2 linked regions of the Homo sapiens genome follow. The protein of the gene in region 1 purifies or fractionates together with the protein of each later gene. This does not show direct contact. Each region holds a gene or a part of one and is shown on either strand. Other genes may lie near its edges.

Region 1 (5,492 bases):
AAGGAGTGAGTGAAGCCAAACATGAAGGAGAAGAACATCTGAATGGCACAAGCCACAAAGGTGATGGAACGATGGGTGAAGAGCAGATCAGCCAGCATGCGAGGGGTGATGGCAACAGTGAACAGAATCTCAGAGATGGAGAGGGCACACAAGAAGAGGTACATGGGTGTGTGGAGTCTGCGTTCAATCCAAACTGTGGCCATGATAAGAAGGTTGCCAAGCAATGTGAACAGGAACATCAGGAGGTACAGCAGGAACAAGACAGGCAGGAGCTGCTGGGGGAAGGCTGAGAAGCCAGAGAGGATAAATTCAGATATGGTTCTGTAGTTCTGACCAGGCATGGATACTGTATCTGGTGAGATCAGAAACAAAATTAAGTGACAGTGGTTAAAACTTAGACTCTAGCACAGACCAAATGGAAACCCAACAGCTCTATGCTATTCAACAACTGGTGGAACTTTCTGGGTCTCACTTTCCTCATCTGTTAAATGGAGTAAATAATAATAGTTCTTAACATTCAGCAATGTGACAAAGATCAAACGAGATCAATATATTAGATGACCAAGTCAGATGTTGGCTACTAATTGGGTTTCCATTAACACTGACTAACATAAAGAAAAGTTTCAATACTTGGAGCCATTAGAGACAGGCATGGATGATCAGGGTCAGATTCCCCTGAAAATGTGCCAGTTCTAGAAAACATTTATTTTGATCTTGAGCCTTAAATTTTTGTTCCCCAAGAGTCTTTGTCTTTTAATTGCTTATTTAACCCGTTTACATTTATTTTAATACTCATTTATTGATACTCATTTATGCCATCTTATTTCAAATTACACATTTACTATTCTAATAAATCTGAATAGAAAATTCAAAAATAAAAGGATGGGTAAATATATGTCTGAAGAATATGCACCAAATGAAAGCTGAGGCTGCAACCTTAATAAAAAAGTGGAATTTAAGGAAACAATGATCGCAAGGTCTCTAATACAATACACCTCTACAGGGAAGTAGAGTTCCTTAACACATGGCTGATCTGTGGTCTGGACATGGAAGAAAGCCTTGGACATCTTCTACCAGTGTAAAATGAAATTTTCACTAAGTAATGGGATAATATTAAAAGCCTGCAGGTACCAGATTGAAAAGATGCCCACTAGTCAAAAACAATAATCATTGTACAGAAGATGGAGGAACAAGCTAAATTATATAATGAGAAAGCTTTCAGAAAAATCCAGAAGGTGGATAATTCCACAGAACAATTGGTCTGGTTTCACTGATAGAGGTATATTGAAAGGATAAGAGAGATTCCAGGACATAGTAACTGGATGCAACATAGGGGACTAGTTGAATCTTGATCTACATAACCAGCTGTAAGTATTTTAAGGCAATAGAGAACATTTTGATTACAGTATGAATGAATGATTACGTATGAGTAATATTAAAGCATTATTATTGATCTAATTGTGAATTTTTTAGAGACAAGGTCTCACTCTGCCCCCTAGGTTACAGTGCAGTAGTAGGATCATGACTCACTGCATCCTGGAACTCCTGGGCTCAAGTTATGCTTCTTCTCAGTCTCCTAAATAGCTGGACTACAGATGTGTGCCACCTCACCTGTCTAATTAAACATTTTTTTTTTTTTTTTGTAGAGACAGGGCTTTGCTTTGTTGCCCAAACTGGTCTCTAATTCCTGGCCTCAAGCAATCTTCCTGTCTCAGCCTCCCAAAGTGGTGGGATTATACACATGAGCCACCATGCTCAGCTAATTATTTTTGTAAGTGTTATCTGGTTATTTTGACTATGAAGGTAAATGTTTAGTTTTTCAATGCATACCAAGATTTTTACATCTCACACACACACACATGCACACACACTAAGGGACAGAGAATAACATTTATACCCATTAAAAGAACATAGCAAACAGCATCAATACTATAAATCCATGTAACTATATATCCTGGAATATTCATTAACAAATAATCAATACAACTTCAGTGAGATAGATAGAAATAGCCAAATCGACGGCAGATTGATTATTTTTTTTTTGAGACGGAGTCTTGCTCTGTCACCCAGGCTGGAGTGCAATGGTTCAATCTCGGCTCACTGCAACCTCCCCTTCCCAGGTTCAACTGATTCTCCTGCCTCAGCCTCCCTAATAGCTGGGATTACAGGCGCGTGCCACCACGCCTGGCTAATTTTTGTATTTTTAGTAGAGGCAGGGTTTCACCATGTTGGCCAGGCTGGTCTCAAACTTCTGACCTCAGGTGATCCGCCCACCTCAGCCTCCCAAAGTGCTGGGATTACAGGTGTGAGCCACCACACCTGGCAGATAGATTATTATAGTTAGAAATTTTAACAGAGTTCAGAAATGCAATTTATTAATTATTAATTACAAAGCAATTAATAATATCCAGACATTAGCTATTATATATATTAGACTCTTCACCAAAAAGAAAATTAACACTCTTTCAACCACTCAGCGACTTTTACAAAAATGGACATTTCATTAGAATATAAAAATTTATTTAATTCCAAAGCATAATAATATGATATAGATTATAATGAATTAACATTAAAAATCAATAGGGAAGAAATAGCTTTACAAATCTCATGTGTTTGGAAGATAACTATATAATTAAATAATCTACAGTTTCAACAGTAAATCATAAAATGGAGGAATATTTAGAATTAAATGATAATTTAAATATTGAATGTCAACATTTTAACCTAAAATAGTACTTTGAAGGAAATATACAGCTCAAAATACCTTTATCAAAAAACTGCCTCAAGAAAAAAATCATGCATAATAAAATCAAAATCAAGTTATTGGAAAAAATTAATAAGATAAACAAGGAGAAGGTACCAATAACAGAACCCAAAATTACAAATGGGAAATAATTACAGAGATAATTGATATTTTTAAATTAATAAAAATAGTAAAAGAAATAACAAATTTACATTGTAGATGAAATGAACAAGTACTTAGAAAAATATAAAATTCCAAAACTGGTGCAAGAAAAAAGGGGATGCTATATGCTCAAATAAGCTTTAAAGAAATTGAAACGGTAGTCAAAGATCGTCTCTCTAAAATCTTTGCCCCAGTGGGTTTTATTAAAGTGCGGTAAGTACTATTAAACTGTTAAAAAAAAAAACAGTTGGTTAGAATCTTACACATGATCTTCAAAAAAATAGAAAAGAGTTAGGAAATCTGACAAACACATCTCCTCAAGTTAATGCAATCTTTGTCTAAAATCAGGCAAGAATCTTCACCGAGAAAAAGAGACAATTATAGGCCTACTTCACCTATCCAGGCAGATTTAAAATTCCAGAATAAAACATAACCTATTCAAATCTAATGGTGTATTAAAAATAGTTTACCATGATCAAGTGGCATTGGTTTATTCCATAAATGACAAGATTGGTTAACATCAGAAAACCTATCATACAATTTATCACAGGAATCGATTTAAAAAGAAAAATCATGATTATTTCAATCAAGGCATAAATACATTCTCTAAAACCCTACTCCTATTATGATTTAAAAAAAAACACTTCACAACACAAAATCCAAGGAGACTTTCTTAACTAGATATAGAATATATAGCACAAATTAGCAAATACAACACTGAAGAAGAAACTTTTCCATGCATCACTTTAGAGTCAAGAAAAAGCCAAGGATACTCACTAATTCCGCTGTTCTTTAACATGGAGCTGAAATTCGTGAGTGATGGTATAAGGTAAGGGAAAGAAACAAGTTATCTAAGGTATCTAAGGACTGGAAGGGAAGAGACGTGATCATCTACCTAGAAAAGATGAAAGAATGATGACATCATGTATTAGAACAGCAACAGAGCCCAGTGATGCAGAAGGCAAGGTCAGCTGGCAAAAACCCCAGTGATCCTCCTAGTATCACACCAGTAACAAGCATTCAAGAAGTATAATCTGAATACAGAGAAAGAGAACAGTCCCAATAGCAACACAAACTATTAATATAAAGAAACATCGCTCAGGATCCCTTTACACCTCAAAGTTACTAAGCACTCTAAAGGGCTTTTGTTTATGTGGTTTAGAACTATCCATTTTTACCATATTGGAAATGAAAATTGAAAATTATTAAAAATATTTAGTTATTAGTATATTTAAAAAAGCATGCCCAGGCACGGTGGCTCACGCCTGTAATCCCAGCACCTTGGGAGGCCGAAGTTTGTGGATCACTTGAGGTCAGGAGTTTGAGACCAGCCTGGCCAACATGGTGAAACCAGGTCTCTACAAAAAATACAAAAATTAGCTGGGCATGGGGGCACGCGCCTGTAATCCCATCCACTTGGGAGGCTGAGCCAGAGAATCACTTGAACCCGGGAGGCGGAGATTGCAGTGAGCCGAGATCATGCCACCGCACTCCAGCCTGGGCAACAGAGTGAGACTTCGTCTCAAAAAAAAATTTCTAAAGAGCAATAGTAAGTCTATTGAATGCTAATATGGGAAACATTTTCAGGCAAATAATCACATTAGGAAAAAAGCATTTCATGAGAAGAGTGGCCTTGTTTGACATTTTAGCCAATACCTCATATGTCCTAGCTTGGCAGGAAACAGCTTGATGGTTTCATCTGCCTCTTCATTCAGTCTGTGGCAATATATTGAAGCATATGATGAAAATATATTCTCACATGTAAATTTGAAAAATAAGGATTTCAGGGACCACTCTGCAGAGGTCCTCATGTCACACTTTGAAAAAATCTGCTATAAAATATCTAGGAATTAACCAAAAACATGACATAGCTCCAAAGAAAAAATTTTAAATACATACTAATAAAAATGTAGAAGATGATCTGAACACATGGGGAGCAGTATAGAGTCTTGGCTGGGATGGCCTGATGTGCTAATGGTGTCAATTCATCCTCAAATTATAACCTCAATACTTAATAATACTCAATAATATAATATTGTATTATATTTACAATTCCAGTGAATCAACTGTAAATTTGATAAAACTATTTGAAAATTCCTTCAGAAAAATAAATATCAGGCCAGGCACGGTGGCTCACACCTGTAATTTCAGAACTTTGGGAGGCCGAGCTGGGCAGAACACTTGAGGTCAGGAATTCAAGACCAGCCGGAGCAACATGGCGAAAGCCCGTCTCTACTAAATATACAAAAATTAGCCAGGTGTGATGGCCCACTTGTAATCCCAGCCACTTGGGAGGCTGAGGCACAAGAATTGCTTGAACCTGGGAGGCGGAGGTTGCAGTGTGCTGCCTGGGTGACAGAGTGAGACTCTGTCTAAAATAAATAAATAAATAAATAAATAAATATGGAATCAAGGGAAGAGCTGTTCCCTCCCACGCGCTGAGACACACAATAGAGTCATAGTCATTTTTAAAATTATGAAACGTGGAACAGACCTAGGTCTGGGTAAGTCGATTGGAAATCTCAGAAAATAACCCTGCATTATTCAAAACCTAATATAGTACACGATAAATGTACTGGCACAAATC
Region 2 (5,054 bases), about 28 Mb from region 1:
AGCACCTAAAGCCACACCCGCAATGAGCTTTATTATTTTGGGGCATCCTCATCTACCTCCTTTCTCCAGCTCCCTCTTGTTTCTGTGCCCACTTGCTGGCTACCTCCTGGATTTGCTCTACCACCTGCCAGCCTCCTCATTTTAAAGACTTTAAAACGAGGCTCAGAGAGGGACAGTCCCTTGTCCCAGTACACTGTCATCTTTTTTCCTTAGCCTCACCTGCCCGGGAGTCACCTTAGCCACTCCCCCTTGGTAAGAACTGGTAGATGAGATTTCTCCCCTCACTGACCCTCCTTAGGCCCAGCCCCTGAAAAGAGTGCCCTTGGGGACCTTGTCTCAAATAGTGCTGGACTTGTGTTTAGGCCACAATACAGTTGCGATTCTTTGTTCTAGGCCCCACCCTCTGTGAGCTTTGTCCCACCCAGCACAGCCGACCCTTGGAAAAACCCCGCCCCCAAATACTGTATTCCATGGAAGTTTTAGCCCAATCCCCATTTTAGGCTGGGGTGGGAAACCTGACCTTATGTCCACCCGTCCAATAATCAAGACTCCATTATTGCTTGAAGCCCCACCCATATCATCACTGCCTCTCCCTATCTGGTTTCTATTTGCTGTGCCATCAGTCTGGCCCTTCCCTTTCCTACCCCTGCCCCATTCTGGGATCATTAGGAAAGCTCTGCCCTTGTCATCATAGCCCAGTCCATGTCACCCAGCCCCTCTTCTACCTTTGACCCTGTCCCTTCTTGTCCCCACAGGCTCCTGCCACCGGCGCAGGATGGCTTCGAGGTGTTGGGTGCAGCAGAGCTAGAGGCTGTGCGTGAGGCCTTTGAGACCGGCGGCCTTGAGGCTGCGCTGTCGTGGGTGCGCTCAGGCCTGGAGCGCCTGGGCAGCGCACGGCTAGACCTGGCCGTGGCTGGCAAGGCTGACGTGGGCCTTGTGGTGGACATGCTGCTTGGATTGGATCCTGGCGACCCAGGCGCTGCGCCTGCTTCGGTCCCCACAGCACCCACTCCCTTCCCAGCCCCAGAGCGCCCGAATGTGGTGCTCTGGACCGTGCCTCTGGGCCACACGGGCACTGCCACCACCGCGGCCGCCGCCTCTCACCCAACGCACTACGACGCCCTCATCCTCGTCACCCCTGGGGCCCCCACTGAGAAGGACTGGGCCCAGGTCCAGGCCTTGCTGCTACCAGATGCGCCTCTTGTCTGCGTGCGCACAGACGGCGAGGGCGAGGATCCGGAGTGTCTGGGAGAAGGCAAGATGGAGAATCCCAAGGGCGAGAGCTTAAAGAACGCAGGTGGAGGGGGATTGGAGAATGCACTCAGTAAGGGAAGGGAGAAATGTAGCGCTGGATCGCAGAAAGCAGGCAGCGGGGAAGGTCCTGGGAAAGCTGGCAGCGAGGGTTTGCAGCAGGTTGTCGGCATGAAGAAATCAGGTGGTGGCGACTCAGAGCGGGCCGCTGCGTTAAGCCCGGAGGACGAGACGTGGGAGGTGCTGGAGGAGGCGCCGCCGCCAGTGTTCCCCCTACGGCCTGGCGGACTCCCAGGGCTATGCGAATGGCTGCGGCGAGCGCTCCCCCCAGCCCAGGCAGGGGCACTGCTGCTGGCGTTGCCACCAGCATCTCCCAGCGCTGCCCGAACCAAGGCTGCGGCGTTGCGAGCCGGGGCGTGGAGGCCAGCTCTGCTGGCTAGTCTGGCGGCGGCGGCGGCACCACTCCCAGGGCTGGGCTGGGCATGCGACGTGGCACTTCTGCGGGGTCAGCTGGCGGAGTGGCGACGGGGCCTGGGGCTGGAACCCACGGCACTGGCTCGACGTGAGCGTGCCCTGGGCCTGGCTTCTGGAGAGCTGGCAGCGCGCGCTCATTTCCCAGGCCCGGTGACGCGCGCCGAGGTGGAAGCAAGACTGGGCGCCTGGGCGGGCGAGGGCACTGCTGGGGGCGCAGCACTGGGGGCTCTCTCCTTCCTGTGGCCTGCGGGTGGTGCAGCGGCGACAGGTGGCCTGGGCTACCGAGCGGCTCACGGCGTCCTGCTGCAGGCTCTCGATGAGATGCGGGCTGATGCTGAGGCTGTGCTGGCACCCCCTGAGCCTGCCCAGTGAGGAGTGGGAGGGGGCTTGGGAGTCCAGACTCTGACAGGGGATGCCTGGGCTTAATCCTGGGTGCTTGAAGGGGATGTGGACTCTTGACTTCCAGCTGGGATGTGTGACTTCTTATCACCTGGATTCAGAGAGTCTGGGGGACAGGAATCCTGATTTTTTTTTTTTTTTTTCTTTTTTTTGTGAGACGAAGTCTCTTGTTGCCCAGGCTGGAGTGCAATGGCGCGACCTCGGCTCACTGCAACCTCCGCCTCCCGGGTTCAAGCGATTCTCCTGCCTCAGCGTCCGGAGTAGCTGGGATTACAGGTGCCTGCCACCACACCTGGCTAATTTTTGTATTTTTAGTAGAGACGGGGTTTCACCATGTTGGCCAGGCTGGCCTCGAACTCCTGACCTCAGGCGATCGACCCGCTCCGGCCTCCCAAAGTGCTAGGATTACAGGCGTGAGCCACCGCCCCTGGCCAGGAATCCTGATACCTTTGGGAACCATGGTGAATGACATCTAGACCCTTCTGTCCTGAAGGGAGTTGGTGGCCCAGACTCTAGCAGGGACTATGTCTTTGTCTCCTAGGGAGTAGAAACTGGAGTTACTGGATGTTTAGTCCTCCAGGGAGGCTGGTAGAAGTCCTGTTTCCTAATTGGTGGGGAGGTGTCCATGACTGGGACCTGAACTCCAGTATAGGGGAGGGAGACCTGAGCGCCCCAGGGAGCTGGAACTCTTGGGCTTCAGAGCCTCAGAGGGAAACAGGGTCTACATTTCTCTGGGAGAAAAAGCCTGCACACAGGTCCCCAAGGAGCAGTGGGCTTTGAATCTTGATGGGGTGGCGGAGGCCCCTGGGGTCTGAGACTTCCGGGGTTCTAAGATGGCTGTGGACCTTGGTTCCTAAATATTGGGTAAGGGGAGGTCTGCATCTGGAGGAGGGATCGGGGGCTTGTGCGAGAAAGCTGGAGACTTCTTGATCTCTCCTGGGGAGTGGATGGGTTTCTATAATTGCCCTCCAAAAGCATGTAGGGAGGGTGGTCCCACAAAAATGAGGTGAGGTGGGTAAGAGGTCTGGGCATGGTGGGCTCTGGGAGTAGCCAGGGACCAGGAATGAGGTCTTTTGGGTGTGGAAGGGCAGTAAAGCATACCTCAGAGACAGCTCCTCCAAACCTTGTATTGGGATCCCGGCAACTGCCTCTGTGAGTGTGACTGGGAAGGGATATGACTGCCTTCATCTTCTAGGTGCTGAGCAATTCAGGTGATCTCTGGGGAGTCTGTTTCTCTGTCTCTTTTCTTTAGGAGTTTCTATCTTTTTTTGGCCTTTTTCTCCTGGTATTTAACCATAACCCTTTATGGCCTTGGTGTTTTGTGCACCTTCCTTTTCAGAAGAGCAGCTGTACTGCTGCACTGGTCCAAACACTTCTGTATGGACACCTCGGGTATCCCCAAGAGGCTCTGCTTTCTGATGTACATAGAGGGTGCTGCATTGAGCCAGGGGCCCACCAAATGGGTGGTCAGGCACTTGAGACCATGGGAATATGCCAGGAGTGAATGAAGCAAAGGCAGAAACCACAGTGCCTGGAATGTTCTAGGCTGCTAGCCACATGTGGGGGAAAAGTTGCAGGTTACAGAATTCTTCAGTGTCAAAAACAGAAAAGGAGGATCTGAGAATCCAAGCGATAGAATCCCTTTTGTCGTAGACAGAAAGAGCAAAGTCCAGAGAGGGCAGGCTTGAGGCCCAACAGCACACAGTAAGGCCCTGTGGGTCTGGCCCTTGCCTATTCTCATTCACTGCCCCTTCCCACTCCTGTCCAGCCTGATAGACTTTCCTTCTTTTTTTTTTTGAAATGGAGTCTCACCTTGTCACCCAGTCTGGAGTACAGGGATGTGATGACTGTAGCTGAGATGACAGGCATGTGCCACCACACCTGGCTAATTTTTGTAGTTTAGTAGAGAAGGGATTTCACCCTGTTGGTCAGGCTGGTCTCGAACTCCTGACCTCAGGTGATCCACCCGACTCAGACTCCCAAAGTGCTGGGATTACAGGTGTGAGCCATCATGGCCGCCTGACTCTTTCTGATGCCTGAGTGGCTACCTTGAGTCCTGCCTGGGGACCCATGCACCTGCTGTTCTCTTTCCTTCAAGGCTCTACTCACAACTTCCTGTTCTACTCTCAAACCTTCCTGTGACGGGCTCAGTCAGATCTCAGCTCACGTATCCCCTCAGAGAGGACTTCCCCTCCCTGACCACCCTATCTGAAGTAGCTCACATTCCCCCACTATTCATTTCGGCCAGTTGAGTTTCCTTGTAGCAATTATTACTGTCAAAAATGATCTTATTTATTTACCTGTTTATTGGCTTTTGACCCGTTGCCTGTCCTGTTCTCTGTTGTTTCCCCAGCATCTAGAACAATAGGTGCCTGACACAATAGGTGCTTCGTAAATATTTATTATTATTATTATTATTTTAGAGACAGGGTCTTGCTCTGTTGCCCCGGCTGGAATACAGTGGGATGATCATGGCTCACTGCCATCTCCAACTCCTGGGCTCAAACGATCCTCCCACCTCCGCCTACAGAGTAGCTGGGACTATAGGTACACAGCACCAAATTTTCTGTAGAGACGGGGGTCTTGCTTTGTAGCCCACACTAGTGTTGAACTCCTGGCCTCAAGTGATCCTCCTGCCTTGATGGGATTACAGGTGTGAGCCACCACACCCAGCCTAAATGTTTATTTCATTGGTCAGTGTCAGAACTAGGATTGGAATTTAGATTGTTAATCTCTTGCCACAAGATAGGAAAATGGAGCAAGATGAGGAGAAAAAAGCATTTAATGGGAGAGAACACCCTTGTCTGAGGTCAGGGACCTGGGAAGCAAGCACGACTTTGCCACTGTCACTGTGTGTTACTTGGACAGTGCCTTATTTTCCCATCTGTGAAATAAAAGAGCTGGATAAGAACCTTAGTTTTGAGATCCTG

The links. The genes of interacting proteins can lie anywhere in the genome.
Region 2: the proteins of OR10H3 (region 1) and IRGQ purify together in Homo sapiens (affinity purification with mass spectrometry; 2 studies listed by BioGRID and IntAct, with this or other methods). This does not show direct contact.

What each region holds. Positions count from the first base shown.
Region 1 is NC_000019.10:15,736,242-15,741,733, reverse strand, and holds the start of OR10H3 (olfactory receptor 10H3), read right to left. Parts: upstream 3,750-5,492; 5' UTR 3,683-3,749; intron 353-3,682; 5' UTR 342-352; coding exon 1-341. UniProt on the Homo sapiens protein: Odorant receptor.
Region 2 is NC_000019.10:43,589,069-43,594,122, reverse strand, and holds part of IRGQ (immunity-related GTPase family Q protein), read left to right. Parts: intron 1-755; coding exon 756-2,097; 3' UTR 2,098-5,054. UniProt on the Homo sapiens protein: Autophagy receptor that specifically promotes clearance of misfolded MHC class I molecules by targeting them to the lysosome for degradation.